2 separate regions of the Homo sapiens genome follow, and region 2 is linked to region 1. Evidence: fine-mapped expression QTL. Tissue or cell type: follicular helper T cells. Region 1 holds a variant in brackets; the other region holds the start of a gene. All regions are shown on one strand. Distances are between the middles of the regions.

Region 1 (6,046 bases):
CGTCTCTACTAAAAATACAAAATCTAGCTGGGGATGGTGGCGCGTGTGTGTAGTCCCAGCTACTTGGGAGGCTAAGACAGGAGAATCGCTTGAACCCAGGAGGCGGAGGTTGCAGTGAGCCGAGATCATGCCATTGCACTCCAGCCTGGGCAACAGAGTGCGACTCTGTCTCAAAAAAAAAAAAAAAAAAATTAGCTGGGGGTGGTGGCAGGCGACTGTACTCCCAGCTACTCAAGAGGCTGCTGCAGGAGAATAGTTTGAACCCGGGAGGCAGAGGTTGCAGTGAGCCGAGATTGTGCTACTGCACTCCAGCCTGGGCGACAGAGCAAGACTCCATCTCAAGAAAAAAAAAAAAAAAAAAAAAAAAGAATCGTATGTAGTCGCAGTGGCTAATGTGACGTTTTGATGCCTGTTGGCTTGGAGCCTTGCTTGTGTTTCTCATGTGGGATGCAACGGCAGATTCTCAACATTTAAAAAACACCTACGAATCAACGGGCCACTTAGTAAATTAGTAAATACTCACTAGCCGTTTGTCAATGGGTTAACTTGTGACTCAATCTGATTTCCCTAAAACAATTTCAACCTACTCTTTTTCCAGGTCATTTTAAACTCTCAGAGTGAACGTCTTGATAGGACCGACAAGACGCATGACATGTACTTAGAAAGCTTATCTTAGAGCCACACTGAGATTGGAACCCGCAAAATATGCCAGGTGAGAGAGCCTTCTCCGACTTTGAACATGTAAGAGGAAGCCCATGAGAATTTTTCCATGAAGCATGTTGTCTCATAATTCAAAAATTAACGCATAAAAATAGATTATCGAGATAAAAACTAGCTCAGCAATAATAAATCTAGAGGTGCTACATGGAGAAATGAAGGACTGATTTCATAATTCTTTCGTGAAGTTCTGGGAAGCCAGGAACGGGAATGAGGGCATAGTTGGTGGCTCCTGGGAGGGCGACACAGTACTGAGTCAGGGGGCTGTCCCACAGGTCCCAGGGGAGCCCTGCACGGTCTGGGCCATGAGGAGCTGACCACCAGCCCCCCGCATCCATGCGTCTCCTGGTGCCGTTGCCCCTACTTCTGACCCACCAGGAAGGCTCTCTTCCCAGGAGGTCACTTGTGGCAGGAGGCGGGGGAGCGGGGGACAGCCTCCTCACCAGATGGGCACAGAGCCACAGACACCACGGACCTGGTGTCCAGAGGTGAAGGTCCCAAGGCTGCGTGAGGCCTGGAGCAGGGGGTGCGGGACTGAGGGGCACCGAGGCCCTGACTGAGACCGCACGGGCGACGATGTGTGGGGTGGGGGAGCCGTAGGAAGTCGGGGAGGGAACAGACCAGAGCGGCTCTGTGCAGGCTGAGGTGGGAGGGACCCCTCTGGCCACCCCGGGTCTTGCCTGCATCTCCCCTTGTGTTTTGGATTCTGGCTCTGCCTCCCAGGGCCTGTGATTGTCATGAAAGAGACGGGGCCGTGTAGGGGGCCCGAAACTTCCTCTGAGCTCAGGACTCGCACAGCGGGGCTGGGGCACTCGTTTGATGGGAAAAGAGCCATCTGGGTGAAGAACAGTGAGTGCAAACACAGGCGTTGGGCCTCCCACCCGAGAACTGCCTTCACTGCCCCCCGCCGCCCGCCACAGGCCTGTGTCTTGGGCGAAGTGGTGACAACTGAGTGTGAGGCAGCCCAGTCACACCCACTCTCTCCCTCTGCCCAGGGAGGAAGGTGAGCAAGGGACACGACACTCACCCGGAGAAACCCAGCAAGCGCAGCGAGGCTGTGGGGAGACCGGAGCCCTGCACACCGCCGGGGGAAGGTGGGCCAGCGCCACCACCGTGGAGAACAGCGCGGAGGCACCCCACGAGATGAGACGGAACTGCCGTGAGATCCAGCAATGCCAACTGTGGGTCTGACCCAGGAGAACGGAAAGCAGGGACGTGAACAGCCCTCCTCATGTTCTTGACACCGTCATTCTCAGCAGCTCAGCTAAGGCACAGAGGCAGCCGAGCGTCTGTCAGCGGAGTCGTGGCTGAGCAGAACACGCCACACGCCACACGCCACACGCCACACGTGCAGGATTGCTCAAGATGGAAGGGCACAGTGGAATATATATATATATTTATATTTTTGGCGAGACCCTGGAGGACACACTGAATACAATGGAATACCATCCCGCCTTTGAAAGGAAGGGAAATCCTGGCACACGCTGCAACAGGAGGGAGCTTGAGGACACTGTGGTGAGTGGAGCACGTGAGACACGGAAGGACACACGCTGAAGACACGCAGAGATGCCCACCCACGTGGGGAGGTGACAGGGGAGCCCAGCGCACAGAGACAAAGTGGAATGGAGGCCTGGGGGCTGGGAGCAAATGCGGAGCGAGTGCTTCCTGGGGCAGAGTCTCCGTTTGGGAAGATGAGAAGGTTCTGCCGACGGATGCTGGCGATGGTTGCAGAAGAATGTGAATGTGCCCAATGCTACTGAAAAACGGTTACAATGGTAAATTCCTTGTTATGTGTATTTTGCCACAATTTTCCACTTTTTCAATTTTTTTTTCTTGCGATTGAGTCTCACTCTATCGCCCAGGCTGGAGTGCAGTGGCACAATCTCGGCTCACTGCAGCTTCTGCCTCCCAGGTTCAAGGGATTCTCCTGCATCAGCCTCCCAAGTAGCTGGGATTACAGGTGCCCACCACGCCTGGCTAATATTTGTATTTTTAATAGAGATGGGATTTCACCATGTTGGTCAGGCTGGTCTGGAACTCCAGACCTCGGGTGATCCACCTGCCTTGTCCTTCCAAAGCGTTGGGATTGAAGGAATGAACGGCCCATGGGGCCGAATTTTTTTTTTTTTTTTTTTT[TTG/G]AGATGGAGTCTTGCTCTGTTGCCCTGGCTGGAGTGCAGTGGCGCAATCTCTGCCTTCCGGGTTCACACCATTCTCCTGCCTCAGCCTCCCAAGTAGCTGGGACTGCAGGCACCTGCCACCACGCCTGTCTAATTTTTGTATTTTTAGTAGAGACGAGTTTTCACCAGGTTAGCCAGGCTGGTCTCGAACGCCTGACCTCTAGTGATCTCCCCACCCTGGCCTCCCAAAGTGCTGGGATTACAGGCGTGAGCCACTGCGCCCAGCTGAATTTTTTAAATGCACAAAAACAAGTGGCCTGGCATGGTGGCTCACACCTGTAATCCCAGCACTTTGGGAGGCCAAGGTGGGCAGATCACCCAAGGTCAGGAGTTCAAGACCAGCCTGGCCAACCTGGTGAAACCTTGTCTCTACTAAAACTACAAAAATTAGATGGGCGTGGTGGCGAGTGCCTGTAGTCCCAGCTACTCGGGAGGCTGAGGCAGGAGAATCACTTGAACTTGGGAGGCAGAGGTTGCAGTAGCAGAGATCACGCCACTGCACTCCAGCCTGGGCATCAACACAGTTTTTTGAGACTACGTCTCAAAAAAAAAAAAAAGAAAAAAAAAGAGCGACACAATGGGGCCGCAGGGCTGACCCCGTTCGGGGTGACTTGCCCCATCGTGCTGGAGGTCAACAGGCCCTCAAGTACAGGAGGGAGGTCAAGGAAACTACGACATTTGCATGTGGAAGGTTCCTGAGGCCAGCGGGCTGGACAGTGCCCAGGGACCCCTGACCTCGCGCCAGGGCACAGCTGAAGTTTGCCCCGCCCGGGGCTGCTGTGGCCCAATAAGTTTGGCAACGCTCTGTCCGTCCGTCAGGTGCTGAGGCCAGGTCTGTCTGCGGCTTCCTGCTGACCTGGAGGTGGGACTCCATGATCTGTAACCACAGAAGGCCCAGAAGCATGAACTCAGCCAGAGTGGGCAGCCAGGACACTGGAGCTGGTGGCGCTGGCAGAGCTTGGGGAAGTCACACCACTGCACACCCTGCGTGACCTCTAGCAACCCCCTGGCTGGAAAGGATGAGTTTCTGACCTCGGAGAGCTGTGTTTGAGGCAGGTTGCTGAGATCACTTTGATCTCCTTTTCTTTTGCCCTCTCCCACATTTAAGGACTTTTGTGATTCCATTGGGCCCACCAGATAGTCCAGAATAATCTCTTTATTTTACTGTCAGCTAGTTAGCAACCTTCATTCAACTTGCAACCTTAGTTCCCCTTTCCCGTGTAACCTGCCATATCTACATGTCCCAAGGATTAGGATTCAGACATCTTTTGGGTGGGGTCATTAGTCTCCTGCCACCGAGAGGAGGGGTATCACATGACATAGTAATAAGAGGATCAATTCACCAAGAAGACAGAACCATCTGTGACTCCTATGCCCCAATTCACAGTAGCTTCAAATACGTAAAGCAAGCACTGGGAGAATACAAGGAGAGGTGGACAAATCCACCACTCCCACAGGAGCTTATAATTATCTTTTTTAGTAATTGATAGTTCACACAGGCAAATATGTGGTAAGACTACAGATTAGCCGGGCGCAGTGGCTCACGCCTGTAATCCCAGCACTTTGGGAGGCCAAGGAGGGCAGATCACCTGAGGTCGGGAGTTCAAGATAAGCCTGACCAACATGGAGAAACCCCATCTCTACTAAAAATACAAAATTAGCTGGGTGTGGTGACGCATGCCTGTAATGCCAGCTACTCAGGAGGCTGAGGCAGGAGAATCCCTTGAATCCGGGAGGCAGAGGTTGCAGTGAGCTGAGATCGTGCCACTGCACTCCAGCCTGGGCAACAGAGCAGAGGGAGAGACTCCATCTCCAAAAAAAAAAAAAAAAAAAAAAAGACTACAGGTTAGGAATTAGGATGAGGCAGTGCCCAGCTATGGGGCCAGGTGGGAAGTGGAGGCAAAGTGGGTCAGCGCTGGAAGGGCATAGTAGCAGCGCCTAACAGACTGCTTAGAAAAGCACTCACACAGCAATTACAGGATCAACATTCTTTTCAAACACACAAGCAACTTTTTTTTTTTTTTTGAGAAGGAGTCTCACTCTTGTTGCCCAGGCTGGAGTACAGCGGCACGATCTCAGCTCACTGCAACCTCCGCCTCCTGGGTTCAAGTGATTCTCCTGCCTCAGCCTCCAGAGTAGCTGGGATTACAGGTGCGAGCCAGCACGCCCAACTATTTGTTTTAAATTTTTAGTAGAGACAGGGTTTCTCCATGTTGGCCAGGCTGGTCTCAAACGCCTGACCTCAAGTGATCTGCCTGCCTCAGCCTCCCAAAATGCTGGGATTACAGGTGTGAGCCACCATGCCGGGCCAGAAGCAACATTTTTGAAAACCTCAGTGAGTTACAAAGACTCAGCATTGCCCAGACACAATGGCTCACGCCTGTAATCCCAGCACTTTGGGAAGCTGATGCAGGCGGATCACCTGAGATCAGGAATTCGAGACCAGCCTGGCCAACATGGTGAAACCCCGTCTCTACTAAAATACAAAAATTAGCCAGGCATGGTGGCACGTGCCTGTAATCCTGGCTACTTGGGAGGCTGAGGCAGGAGAATTGCCTGAACCCAGGAGGCAGAGGTTGCAGTGAGCCGAGGTTGTGCCACTGCACTCCAACCTGGGCCACAAGAGCAAAACTCCATTTCAAAAAAAAGAAAAAAGAAAAATGATTCAGTATTGCCCAGCCTGCATTCTTTGTCCATGACGCTGCTAGGTTGGAGATCCACTATCTAATAATTGCTCTAAAAAATCAATTTGGAAATGTTTTAAACACCTGCGTGTGTCTAGTCTGAGCTACCACAAAGCTTCTATCCTTTCTTCCCACAGTAGAGTCTCTCCCAGGTGGTTTCCAGGGACTCCCGTCCTCACTCTTGTCTCTGTCCCACAGGAAACGCCACCCCAGTGACCACCACTGCCCCGTGGGCCTCCCTGGGCCTCTCCGCCAAGACCTGCAACAACGTGTCCTTCGAAGAGAGCAGGATAGTCCTGGTCGTGGTGTACAGCGCGGTGTGCACGCTGGGGGTGCCGGCCAACTGCCTGACTGCGTGGCTGGCGCTGCTGCAGGTACTGCAGGGCAACGTGCTGGCCGTCTACCTGCTCTGCCTGGCACTCTGCGAGCTGCTGTACACAGGCACGCTGCCACTCTGGGTCATCTATA
Region 2 (4,524 bases), 440 kb before region 1:
AAGTAAGCGGAGCAGCTGGTGCCAAGGCCAGGCCCGACGGGGTGAGAGGTCCCTGGAAAGGCCAGCTGAGCAACAGACCCTCTGCAAGGGTGGGATGGGGGGGTCTCCAAGGAGTCCCGCGCTGGTGGGAGCCCGCCGCTGCCACAGACCCACCTGTCAGCGCTGGCCTCACAGTGGACACACCACTGGGTACCTGTGCCCCTGAGCCAGCCCCTGCCACCTTCAGGACCCCACAGGAGCTGTCCACCCCGCAAGTCAGCCCCCACCAGGATGTGGTGGCAACAGGAGCTGTCTTCCTCCCCCTCCAGTGCCCAGGAGGGAGTGGCTTTCATGGCACAGACCCCATCCCACTGTTCACAGAGCTGGAAGTCCACTGGTAACTTTTGGGAACAGAAAGGCAAATTCTGTGAGCTCTCTGACACCCGTTTCTGCCCACCATTGCCCACCCCACTGGGCTCCCTGCCCAGCCCTGCCCCCTACAAGGACCACCGGGAACCACGGGCTCAGGCTTTGGGTAAGCCAGGGCAGGAAGGCCCACATCCAGCCAAAAGCCTGTGCCAGGCCTCACGGGACGGGCTGCAGGGACTGGCAGCTGGCGGCCTGCAGCACGGGACACAGCCCCTGAGTGGAAGCCCTGTGCCAGCTCTACCTTGCTCAGGAGGGCGCACTGCTCCTGCTGACTGGACACCAGCTGGCGCCACCGGAACCGCAGCTTTCCCATCAGCCACTGCACATGGCGGACATCCACAGGACCCTCTGCTTCCATGTGGGGTGCAGGTGGGCCAGGGCTGGCCAGGGCCTCACACTGGAGAGGGGCAAGGGTCAGGCCCTGCTCCCACCCCACCCTGCCCCCCAGAAAAGGCCAGGATGGAGACGGTAGTGGAGGCACAGCCAAAAACAACGGGTGCTCCCTGCACAGGGAGCCTCCGTGCTTTCAGCTGGGCAGCTGGGTAACCCTTCATGGGACTGCCCTGAGGAGCAAAGCAGACAGAGGGGGCTGACCCAGGCCTGCCCTTGCTCTGGCCCCAGGAGTTGAGACCAGGGCTGGCTCAGCTCACCCTCACCCACACGCACCTGGCACACAGTCATCTCGTCACCCAGAGGCACTCGGGCCTGGGCCAGCATCTGCTCGGGCACAGGTCCTCGGGCCAAGAGCCAGGACAGAGCCAGCAGCAGCTCCCGACTGCCCTGCGAGCCATCCTCAGGTAGTTGTGCCAGTGCCAGCCTCGGGTAGCCCTGGGAGCATAGTGCTGACTTCACCAAGCGGGCTTGGACCTCTAGGACAGAAGACCACCACCTTAGGGGGACCACCCACCTGGAGGTGACACCACCTGGATCCCTCCAGAGACCCCCACAGGTCACTTGAGCAGAAGCTCAAGGCCTAGTTCAGAAGAGATGATAGTGGGAGAGCTAGAACTCAGACCAGGATGAGGAGACCAGGGGCCAACAGGGACGTCCCCAGGGCTTTGTAGGAGCAGAAGCCAGTGCTACCCAAGGGGGTGGAGCTAGGGCCCATCAGGGGGCGTGGCTTACCGGGGAAGGCGGAGTTTTGAGGAGCAAGCGGGGTCAGTGTTGGGTGGGGGCTAGAGCCTGCCGGGGCGGGGCTTACTGGGGAAGGCGGGGCTTTACAGGAGTAGGCGGGGCCAGTGCTACCGGGTGGGCGGGGCCAGGAGCGGGGCTTACCCAGGGCGAGCGATGCCAAGGCGTTGCCCGCAGGGAGTGGCGAGAGCACACGGAAGAGGAGCTGCCAGAGCGCGGAGGTCTGCGGAAAATAAAAAGCGGGCGGTCAGCGGAGCCGGCCCAACTCCCTGCGAGGGCCCGGGACCCCACCCGGCCCGCCTGCCCTCCGCGAGAGCGTCACCGCCTCCGGACGGTCGAACTTGGCGCGGCGGAAGATCTCGGGGCTGGGTCCCGAGGGCAGCGACCGACTCAACGCGGCGATGGCCTCAGGCAGGGCCCCGGCCCGGGCCCCAGCCGCGGGGTCCACCCGCTGCCGCCGCCTCCCCATGCAGCCAGCACCAGCCTCTTTCGGATCGCCCGCCTCCGCCGCGGCCCGGGGCCTGCGTCCAATCACCGCACGGGCCGGGTTTAGTGCGGCGGCTGGGACCTGCGCCCAGTTACCGCTCCGGCTGGAACCTGAGCCCAATCATGGCACGGGCCGGGTCCAGCGCCCAATCACCGCGCCGGCTGGGACCTGCGCCCAATCACCGCGCTGGCCGAGACCTGTACCCAATCACCGCGCTCCCGAGACCTGTACCCAATCACCGCGCTGGCCGGACATGCATCCAATCACTGCGTCGGCAGGGTCCCGCCTTCGTGTCCAAGCCCAATGAACGGTTCCCCTGGAGTTTGAGTGTAGTCTATTCTGTCTCGTGCGGACCCACTTCCGGGCTCCTGGCAGGGCTGTTGATATGGAGAACACCGCAGAGTCCGCCCTTGCAGGCTCAATCGTCACGACACCCGACACCCCGCCTCGCTCAGACCCCACCCATCAGCGCCTCACGCCCCTTGGCAACCTAGCAACCGCCGGGCGGGAGCGCGCAGACTCCGGAAGGCGCCCTGTGGGGCCGCTTACGCAGTCGGAGCGGACGAGCCTCGCCCCATCGCGCCGCCTTCCAGGCTGGGCCGCCAGGAGGCGCCCAGAGCCCGCCGCGCCGCACAGCGCAGACCCCAGCGCGGCCGGCCCCTGGCCCCTGGCGCGAAGTCCCGGGCAGCTCCCCCGCCCCGAACGCGCAGCCGGAGCCCGCGGCAGCCTCCTCAGGCGCTCCCGATCCTCGCCCGCCCGCGGCAGCGCTTCCCTCTGCCGCCGCCACGGAGCAGCCCCGGAGGAAGCCGGCGCATGGAAGCAGCTGCTGCCCGGGCGCCGCTGAGCCGGGCCCGCCTGCACGGGCGGCCCCGAAAGACGCGGGCCGGGAGGAACGTGGGGCTGTCTGCGGGGATGGAAGGTCGGGCTGGCTTCTGGCCAGCGGCGCCTCCGGGCATTCGTGAAGACCCCGGGCAGCGTGTCACCGGGGCTGTTCCCGCGATGCCCCTGCACCTCCCGGGGCTGCGAGGACGGCGGGAGAGGGAAACTCAGTCCTCCCTGGACCCCCAGCCCTGGCTGGACACGCCCACGAGAGGCGCAGCCCGAGGGGTCCCGGCCCCACCTTTCTTCTCGGCCTCCTTCGCCCCCGACCTCCTCTTCCAGGCGGCCCTCCCGGCCCCGCCTCGGGGCCCCCCCCCCAGCAAGCCCCTCCTCTCCCTCCCCGCACGCCCTCCGTCCTTCCCCGCCCGCAGCCTCCTTCCCTCCGGCGCATCGCGATCTCCTTCACGGCGCCAGTAGGAGGACTGCGCTCCTCACCCCGCCCACGCGGGTTTCTTGAAGCTAAGGGGCCTCCTCCTCGGAGCGCCTACTGCACCTGCCGAGCTACAGGGCGGCGGGAGCCAGGGGGATGGGAGCAGGAGGTGGGGAACCGCGGCGCCACAGAACTTGGCAGGAGGCGTGGGGGAGATGGCGGAGCAGCTCTGCGGCCTTGTTCAGCGCTCTCCCAACCCCCGAGCTTGCGGATTTTTCTCTGCACCAGGTGTCGCTGTCTCAAAGATCTCAGTTCCCTCAGCTCCACCCACCACCGTCCAGCCAGAAACCAGCCTCACCTCAGCACCCCCTGCCCCCATCCCATCAAAAGTGCTGTGGCTCCCAGCTCTTGGAATTCCAGGAATCCCCCAATCACCCCCACACACCCCACCCTGCGGGCCACCCTAGACTGCCCCCACAGCACCTGTCGAGCTGAGCCTGCAGCACACCCACCACAGCCCTAAGGCAGGGCCAGACCCCTGGGCTCTTTTAAACCAGTGGGTGTCCGGAGGGGTGGCCTTCTGCCAAGGCCGGTATCTAAGTAGCCAGTGTGGGGAAGAGGGTCTCTGAAGGTGGCCAGTCAGCAGCGGCTGGCTGAGTTGACAAGGGAGTTTCCAGAAGGCCCCCCAGCCCCTGTGCACGGCCGGTACTCAAGTTCCCCACTGGACGCCGGGCCACTGGGTAAGTCCCTGGGCACAGGGTAGATGGCAGATGAGGACGCACATGGGGCAGTGGTGCCTGGGTCAGGGGCAGAGCAGCCTCATCAGGCCCTTGCAGAAGCTGGGCCTGGCCTGGAGGGGTGGGGAATGAGGACAGGGTTGGGGGGTGGAAAGGAGGAAGGCCAGGAGTTCCCATAACTCCCCCAGAGCCTCTCAGAAAGGGAGCCAGCATGAGCTGATTCACCCTCTGACCCGAGGCCAGCCTCGCCCGCCCCCAGGCCTCTCGGCCTGCTGAGCCTTTGGCTGGTGGCCTGCAAAGCCCCCCTTCCCCACTCCCAGAAGGCCAGGAGGGCTCAGAGGCACTTCTGAGGATCTGGGAGTTGTCGAGGCGGACTCAGAGTGCCAGGGCTGGGTGCGGGCTGTCTAGGGTGGCCTGGACTCACCCTGCACAGGGAGCCCTCGCCTATGAGACCCTGGAACGGCCCCCTGGGGAGGGCAATGGGCAGCAGAAGAGCAGGCGCCGGTGGCAGA

Which allele goes with the higher level. Positions count from the first base shown, and alleles are read on the strand shown. Sizes are in standard deviations (SD) of each study's normalised expression.
For the expression in follicular helper T cells of the gene that starts at base 2,138 in region 2, allele TTG in region 1 goes with a higher level than allele G (large effect, 1.7 SD a copy in Schmiedel 2018).

The links. PIP is the estimated chance that this variant, and not a neighbour inherited with it, causes the effect.
Region 2: TEDC1 starts here. The variant in region 1 is fine-mapped to the expression of TEDC1 in follicular helper T cells (Schmiedel 2018, PIP 0.95).

Annotation. Positions count from the first base shown.
Region 1 is chr14:105,051,833-105,057,878 of GRCh38, reverse strand. It overlaps GPR132 (G protein-coupled receptor 132), which reads left to right. Exons shown (of 4, transcript NM_013345.4): 2 at 599-712; 3 at 1,713-2,492; 4 at 5,777-6,046. The coding sequence starts at 2,459. It overlaps LOC124903398 (a long non-coding RNA gene), which reads right to left. Exons shown (of 2, transcript XR_007064368.1): 2 at 2,102-2,470. Among named protein-coding and RNA genes, the nearest start is that of GPR132, 11 kb to the left of the region's middle. RefSeq lists an enhancer at 1,494-2,269. The variant TTG/G (reference allele first, on the strand shown) is at 2,854.
Region 2 is chr14:105,488,860-105,493,383 of GRCh38, reverse strand. It overlaps TEDC1 (tubulin epsilon and delta complex 1), which reads right to left and starts at 2,138. Exons shown (of 9, transcript NM_001367178.1): 1 at 1,862-2,138; 2 at 1,684-1,762; 3 at 1,075-1,277; 4 at 650-805. The coding sequence starts at 2,008. It overlaps CRIP1 (cysteine rich protein 1), which reads right to left. Exons shown (of 6, transcript NM_001311.5): 6 at 4,437-4,524. RefSeq lists enhancers at 1,315-2,058, 2,233-2,482, 2,059-2,802 and silencers at 1,813-2,182, 2,573-3,202, 3,213-3,262, 3,393-3,522.